Linked DNA regions of Homo sapiens. The protein of the gene in region 1 purifies or fractionates together with the protein of each later gene. This does not show direct contact. Each region holds a gene or a part of one and is shown in the gene's direction. Other genes may lie near its edges. The genes, in order: SSC5D and PLXDC2.

Region 1 (3,822 bases):
ACATATATGTATATATATTATACATTTATATGTTATATAAAATTGCTATTATATAGAGATTAAGTGCATTTGGCCAAAAAAAAAAAAAAGGAAAAATAGTATTATAGAGATGTTCCAGGCAGTGAATTAATAAAGATGTTATGGTTTTTCCCCCGCTAGGGCAGGAGCCTTGAGGAATTAAAATAATAAATTCCTTTTTTTTTTTTTTTGAGGCGGTGTCTCGCTCTGTCACCCAGGCAGGAGTGCAGTGGCACAGTCTTGGCTCACTGCAACCTCTGTCTCCCAGGTTCAAGTGATTCTCCTGTCTCAGCCTCCCGAGTAGCTGGGATTATAGGCGTGTGCCACCATACCCAGCTAATTTTTTGTATATTTAGTGCAGATGGGGTTTCTCCATGTTGGCCAGGCTGGTCTTGAGCTCCTGACCTCAAGTGATCTGCCTGCCTCAGCCTCCCAAAGTGCTGGGATTACAAGCTTGAGCCACGGCGCCAGGCCCAAATGCCCTTCATTTTATGTGCTAGTTTAGTGACCGTTTCCGTCGTTGGTAGCCAAAAACATCCCAGCTGAATGGAGAAGGTCTCCACGAGGTCAGGTAGGGCTGCAGTGGCGGTGCAGTTGAGACGGGATGATGCCTGAACTGGGGCTGGCCCAGGAGGAGAGAGACGGGGAGTCAAACTCAAAGGGAAGTTGGAAGACTCAATCCTCTTCCCCATATCTCTCTAGGCAGCAAAGATGGTTACAAGCTTCCCTGGACGTGGGACACACCATCAGGAAGGGGCCTGGCTGAGGGGACCCCTACCGCAGGCAAACTAGGACCAACTCTTGGGGCTGGCACCACCAGGAGCCCAGGCAGTCCTCCAACTCTGAGAGTCCATGGAGACACAGGTGAGACACGTGGCTGGGGTGAGGAGACTGGGACGGTATTTGTCCTGGGGTAAAGAGACAGATTCCAGACTCCCCACTGGAACCCTTACCCCAGAAAGACTCAGCAGAAATATACCCTAAAACAAAGGGTTATCGGCTGAGCATGGTGGCTCATGCCTGTAATCACAGCACTTTGGGAGGCCGAGTTGGGAGGATTGCTTAAGCTCGGGAGTTTGAGAGCAGCCTGGGCAACATGGTGAGCCCCCCAAGATATGAACATTAGCTGGGTGTGGTGGTACGCACGTGTGGTCCCAGCTGCTTGGGAGGCTGAGGCAGGAGGATCCCTTGAGCCTGGGTGCTCGAGGCTGTGGTTGTGCCACTGTATTCCAGCCTGGGTGCCAGAGCGAGACCTTGTCTCAAATAAAGACAAAAACAGAACCAAGAGGTTATTATCTAGACCGCTGGTCATCAACTAGGGTCGATTTTGCCCCCAAGGGGAATTTGGCAATATCTGAAGATATTTTGGATTGTCATGGCAGGAAGTGAGAGGCTACCCATTGGCACCTGATCGGTAGAGGCCGGGGTGGTGATAAACATTCACAATGCACACGACATTCCCCATAACAAAGAACCACCCAGCCCTAAATTACAATAGTACCGAGGTTGAGAAACCCCAGCCTAGATGGCATAAGTCACTGTGACAAATAGGAAAATGATAGGAAACCCTAGATGAGAAAGAGGAAAACAGGTGATTCCCAGAAAAGGAAGCCCAAATGGCTGAGTGTATTTAGAAATGCCCACGCTCATCAGGAACCAGAAAATACAAATTAAAACAATGGCAAGTACAGAGGAGAATGAGAAAGGTGGGTATTATCCAGTGTGAGTGAGGATGTGGGAAGACAGGCAACCCCACTGGACAGAGCTGTTTGATAAAGACAATCCAGCAGTATTTAGTAAAGTTAAGCATGATTAGGCTGGCTGCAATGGCTGACGCCTGTAATCCCAGCACTTTGGGAGGCTGAGGCGGGCAGATCACGAGGTCAGGAGATCGAGACCATCCTGGCTAACACGGTGAAACCCTGTCTTTACTAACAATACAAAAAATTAGCCAGGCGTGGTGGTAGGCACCTATGGTCCCAGCTACTCGGGAGGCTGAGGCAGGAGAATGGCGTGAACCCAGGAGGCAGAGCTTGCAGTGAGCCGAGATTGCGCCACTGCACTCCAGCCTGGGCAACAGAGTGAGACTCTGTCTCAAAATAATAATAATAATAATAATAATAATAATAATAATAATAATAATAATAATAGGTGTGGTGGCAGGCGCCTGTAATCCCAGCTACTCGGGAGGCTGAGGCAGGAGAACTGCTTGAACCTGGGAGGCGGAGGTTGCAGTGAGCTGAGATCGCACCACTGCACTCCAGCCTGGGCAACAGAGAAAGACTCTGTTAAAAAAAAAAAAAAAAGAGAGAGAGAGAAGAAGGGAGGAAGGGAGAAAGGAGGGAAGGAAATCTGCATGAGCTCCATGACGTAGATCTATAATTTTGCCCATTTCTCAGATGAGTGAAATTGAGGCACAGACATCAGTGACTCTGACATCAATAATTATTAGAGTGCTTATTCCATGCTAGACATTACACTAAGTGCTTTGCACAACCATGGTCTCCCTGAGTCCTTTTGACAGCTCTGCAAGGGAGATACGCGGATCATCCACAGTCTATAGCTGAGGAAGAAACTGAGATTCAAGCAGTGAAGTAACTTGGCCGTGGTCACCCCGCTAGGAAGCCATGCAGCTGGGGTTTAAACTCGGACAGCCTGCCTTGAGCACAAGCCCTTTACTTAACCGCTTCTCCAATCCTGCAAACAAAGGACAAGGTGGGGAAGGGATGCGCCTGAAAGACCCTGCCCTGCAGGAACAAGTGGAAATCTGTAGATCTGTGTGGTTCAATACGGTAGCTAAGAGCACCGGGCATGGTGGCTCACGCCTGAAATTCCAGCACTTTGGGAGGCTGAGGCAGGCAGATCACCTGAGGTCGGGGGTTCAAGACTAGCCTGAACAACATAGTGAAACCCCATCTCTACTAAAAATACAAAAAAATTAGCTGGGCATGGTGGCACATGCCTGTCATCCCAGCTACTCAGGAAGTGGACACAGGAGAATCACTTGAACCCAGGAGGCGGAGATTGCAGCGAGCCAAGATCGCGCCACTGCACTCCAGCCTGGGCAACAGGAGTGAAACTCCGTCTCAAAAAAAAAAAAAAAAAAAAAGTTAAATGAATTAACACTTTGAAAATGAAACATTTGCCGGGCGCAGTGGCCACGCCTGTAATCCCAGCACTTTGGGAGGCCGAAGCGGGCGGATCACGAGGTCAGGAGATCGCGACCGTCCTGGCTAACACAGTGAAACCCCATCTCTACTAAAAATACAAAAAATTAGCAGGACATGGTGGCGAGCGCCTGTAGTCCCAGCTTCTCGGGAGGCTGAGGCAGGAGAATGGCATGAACCTGGGAGGCAAAGCTGGCAGTGAGGCGAGATCGTGCCACTGCACTCTAACCTGGGCGACAGAGTGAGACTCCGTCTCAAAAAAAAAAATAAAATAAAATAAAAGAAAATGAAACATTTAGTTTCTCATTCACACTGGCCGCATTTCAAGGGCTTGGTAGCCACATGTGGCCAGTGGCTACTGTATTGGCACGGTAGATCACAGCGCATTCCCATCACTGCAGATGTGAGATTTCATTGCCTAGACTCTATGTGCAAACAACTTGGGTTCAAGTCTTAGCCCTGCAACTTGCAAACTATGTCTGTGTGACCTTGGGCGAGTCACCTGCCCTCTTGCCCTAATTTCCCCCTTCTGTAAAATGGGGATAAAATTGGCACTCACTTGGAAGACAGCCCCAGAAGAGGGTCAGGCTCCTCCTGCTACTCAGGCCCAAAATTTAAGGGGGTGCCCAAAACGCCA
Region 2 (3,822 bases), on another chromosome or scaffold:
TGTTGGCCATTTTTTTTGTCTTCTTTGGAGAAATGTCTTTTTTAGGCACTTTGCCTATTTTAATATCAGTTATTTACATTAAGCCTTCTGTTGATAGATAGGACTTTCAAAAAGTTTATTCCACTATTTTCCTATACTGCTAGTTTCTTTCTGGATGTTTACTTACTTTTTTTTTTTGAGACAGAGTCTCGCTGTTTCTCCCAGTCTGGAGTGCAGTGGCGCGATCTCAGCTCACTGCAAGCACCGCCTCCCAGGTTCACGCCATTCTCCTGCCTCAGCTTCCCAAGTAGCTGGGACTACAGGCACCCGCCACCACGCCCAGCTAATTTTTTGTATTTTTTAGTAGAGACGGGGTTTCACTGTGTTAGCCAGGATGGTCTCGATCTCCTGACCTCGTGATCAACCCACCTCAGCCTCCCAAAGTGCTGGGATGTTTACTTATGCTTTTAATTTAATATCTTAAAATATGATATACATATATATGTACATATGCATACATATATGGTGGTGGTGGTGTTTCATTTCACTGAAGATGAAGACTATTAAATAATTTTGGTTCTTTGTGGGATTCTTTTTGAATTAAACTGTTTTAGGCCTCATGTCACTAAACTATAATGAAGGAGGCTGTAAAAATATTGTCTCGGCTGGGCGTGGTGGCTCACACCTGTGATCCCAGCACTTTTTTGGGAGGTGGAGGTGGGTAGATCAAGAGGTCAGGAGATCAAGACCATCCTGGCCAACATGGTGAAACCCCGTCTTCCCTAAAAATAAAAAAAATTAGCCAGGCATGGTGGCATGCACCTGTAGTCCCAGCTACTCAGGAGGCTGAGGCAGGAGAATCGCTTGACCCGGGAGGTGGAGGTTGAGATTGCGCCACTGCACTCCAGCTGGGCGACAGAGCAAGACTTCATCTCAAAAAAAAAAAAATTCTCATAAAACTTGTTTTGAGGTGAGGTTCAGTGGCTCACACCTGTAATCCCAACACTTTGGGAGGCCGAGACAGGGGGATTGCTTGAGTCCACGATTTGGAGACCAGCCTGGGCAACATAGGGAAGAGACCTCATCTCTACAGTTTTTTTGTTTTGTTTTGTTTTGTTTTTAATTAGCTGTTCATGGTGGTGCACACCTGTAGTCCCAGCTACTTGGTAGGCTGAGGTGGGAGGATCACTTGAACCCAGGAGGTCAGGGCTGCAATGAGCTGTGATTACACCACTGCATTCCAGCCTGGCCAACAGAGTGTGACCCTGTCTCAAAAAGTAAAATAATAAAAAATCTTGCTGTGGGAGCTGTTACAGGGAAGCAGATGAGGATATTCTGCAATACATTTCACGGTGTCTGCTCCCCAAGATATTATGCCATGAGAAAATGAGAAAGAGAAAGAGACAGAGACAGGGTGAGAGACCTTATGTTTCAATAACAGACATAGTTCTTTTGAACTTGTTTGTGTCTTCTGGACATTATAAATAGTACCTAGGAGTTTTACCATTTAACTTTTGGTTTCTTGAAATCTCAGTGCAAGATTTGTGGCCCACCTCCAACAAGCATATAAACCTTCTGGCCTACATTTGTGTGCTAGCTTACCTATGTCTTCATCTTACCTTTTCTACCTTTTCTCACTTAAAATCTTGTTTGGTATTTGTTTTGGAGATGGGAAAAAAGCAAATAAAATTGAATCGCCATAATACATAAGGTTGTGTATCACTAAGTTGCTTTCCACTTTCTCTTAATCTGATGAATTCCAGCCCTTTGGCTTTATTCTGAGCACATTTTCCCAAAGCTGTAATTATCTCTGTAGAGTACTCCATTCTGAGAGGTCTTTCTTCACTGAGTTCACACAGGATATCTTCCCTCACTGCCTCCCACACAATGATTCTGTTAAGCTGAGGAAGTTACTAGAGAATGACAGGCTAAGTAGTGATGCTTTTATTAAGAAAGTTTCTTCCACTATTTATTGTGTTATACATTAACAGGATAATAGCTGACAAAAGATGAGAATATAAAATATTCCACATGTGTTTATAACCAGACAGTGAACTCATTTCATATTTATTGTTTGGTTTTATTTTCCTCTTTTTAATTAAAAAGGTGGTAAGCTGTGGAATGATGGTATAGATTTGTATATTTAAATAGAATTAGAGGTCTTGTCAGGGGCCTGTTTGGAATTAGCCTGTTAAGGATTACAGATCTGAACATGGGGTCAGACACTAAGTGACGTTACTGGATATCCAGACTTTTAAATCTCTTCTGTCAGAGGCCATCAAACCAGATCTAAGCGCTGGTACCTTTACCTTACCCTTCAAATTAAAATAGGCTGTCCTCACTCTTTCTGCTTGAGGCCTTATCATAGTTAGTGGTCTGTGAATTTTGTCAAGAGAGGGTCACAGGCCAAGATGCAGACTGACTTCCTTTTTACTTGTCTGGAATCTTATTACTCAGTTCCTCAATTATTTTTTACTCAATAATTGGACATTTTCCTTAGAATCCATGTTGTTCGAGGTCTCGTCCTGTAGGTAAGGTGTGTAGCTCATTGAGGCTTTGAGAATATGGAGAGAATGTTAAGAGTTTGCCCTATGGAAAAACTGCATAGGAATCCGAATATTTGAAAGTCAATTCTCTATGTATTCCTTGGAGTGTTCAGTGATACAAAAAGTCTAAATAAAACTGATATATTCTCTTTGAGTATGATGCTTGGTAAGTACACTCTGGTTCATTTTGCTTAGGATACTGTATTCTTGGGTCCAGCTGGAATATGGAACATTGAACATTCGATAATGTTTTTTGGGTAGTAGTTACAGATATCTGCTTACAGTAGCAACTGCTTACAGTAGTAACTCCTACCATTTTCTGTCTGAAACCATTATATGAACATCCAATAAAATATTTATTTCCCTAAAGCCTAAAAGGGAAGTAGGACAGGCAGAATTTATCATTTAGAGCATGAAATGTACCAATAATGATGAGTTTTAAGATGGGAAAGTATTTAAGGTACATTTCAGGTACTGCTCATGCTGAATCTATTATATCTATTTGCTGAATTCTTTCCAACATACAAACTTAGACTGTAGCTACCGCTGACCTAATGAACCTGGTTATTTATATGCTGTCTTTTTGTTCATTTGTCTGGTCAAAAGGGCCCACTCACCTTCCTGTGGGCATAGCTGGCGGGAGCAAGTCTGGTATTTCAGCTGACTTCTCCTTTTGGCTTTCTCTTCTCCTTCTCCTTTTGCTATCTTTTCTCTTCAATTCATTGAAAAATGTCTATATATAAATTACATAAATGCAATCTGCATTGCAAAATATCCCAATGAAAAGTATATATGAAATAATTTTTGGCAAACTGAGTCATGTTCTTAGTGGATATGGGTTCCTGTGATTTCAAGGAATGCTGTCCTGAACTTTTAATTTAAAAACATTCAACCTCCTAATTATTTTGCCAGTCCGTAGTTTTATGTTTAAGATTGCCCAAAATGTACTGCCTGTCCATAATTCTTTCAAGAATTATTGCTTCTGATATTAGCCATTTTAATTCTATTTACTATTTATATAGGTCCTGGGAATATACACCTTTGAATTTTTTGTTGTTGTCATTTAGCCCTTTAATTTGCTAATTCCAGGAAACAAAAATTGAACTAAGAGACATACCACTGTGTCTTTGCACTTTTTTTCTTGGTGCTTGTTTGGAGCAGAAACAGGAGGGTCATTTTAGTTTTTTTGTCATACAAGAAAAATTTGAAGAATATTTTAATACTTTGAAAACTGTGGATGCCCTGTGAAAATCAAGTTGACTTGTGAGGTTAAAACAAATTTTATTTCACATTTTAG

What was found.
Region 2: the proteins of SSC5D (region 1) and PLXDC2 purify together in Homo sapiens (affinity purification with mass spectrometry; one large-scale study listed by BioGRID and IntAct). This does not show direct contact.

The regions. Positions count from the first base shown.
Region 1 is NC_000019.10:55,512,291-55,516,112, forward strand, and holds part of SSC5D (soluble scavenger receptor cysteine-rich domain-containing protein SSC5D isoform 1 precursor), read left to right. Parts: intron 1-720; coding exon 721-882; intron 883-3,822.
Region 2 is NC_000010.11:19,822,757-19,826,578, forward strand, and holds part of PLXDC2 (plexin domain-containing protein 2 isoform 1 precursor), read left to right. Parts: intron 1-3,822. UniProt on the Homo sapiens protein: May play a role in tumor angiogenesis.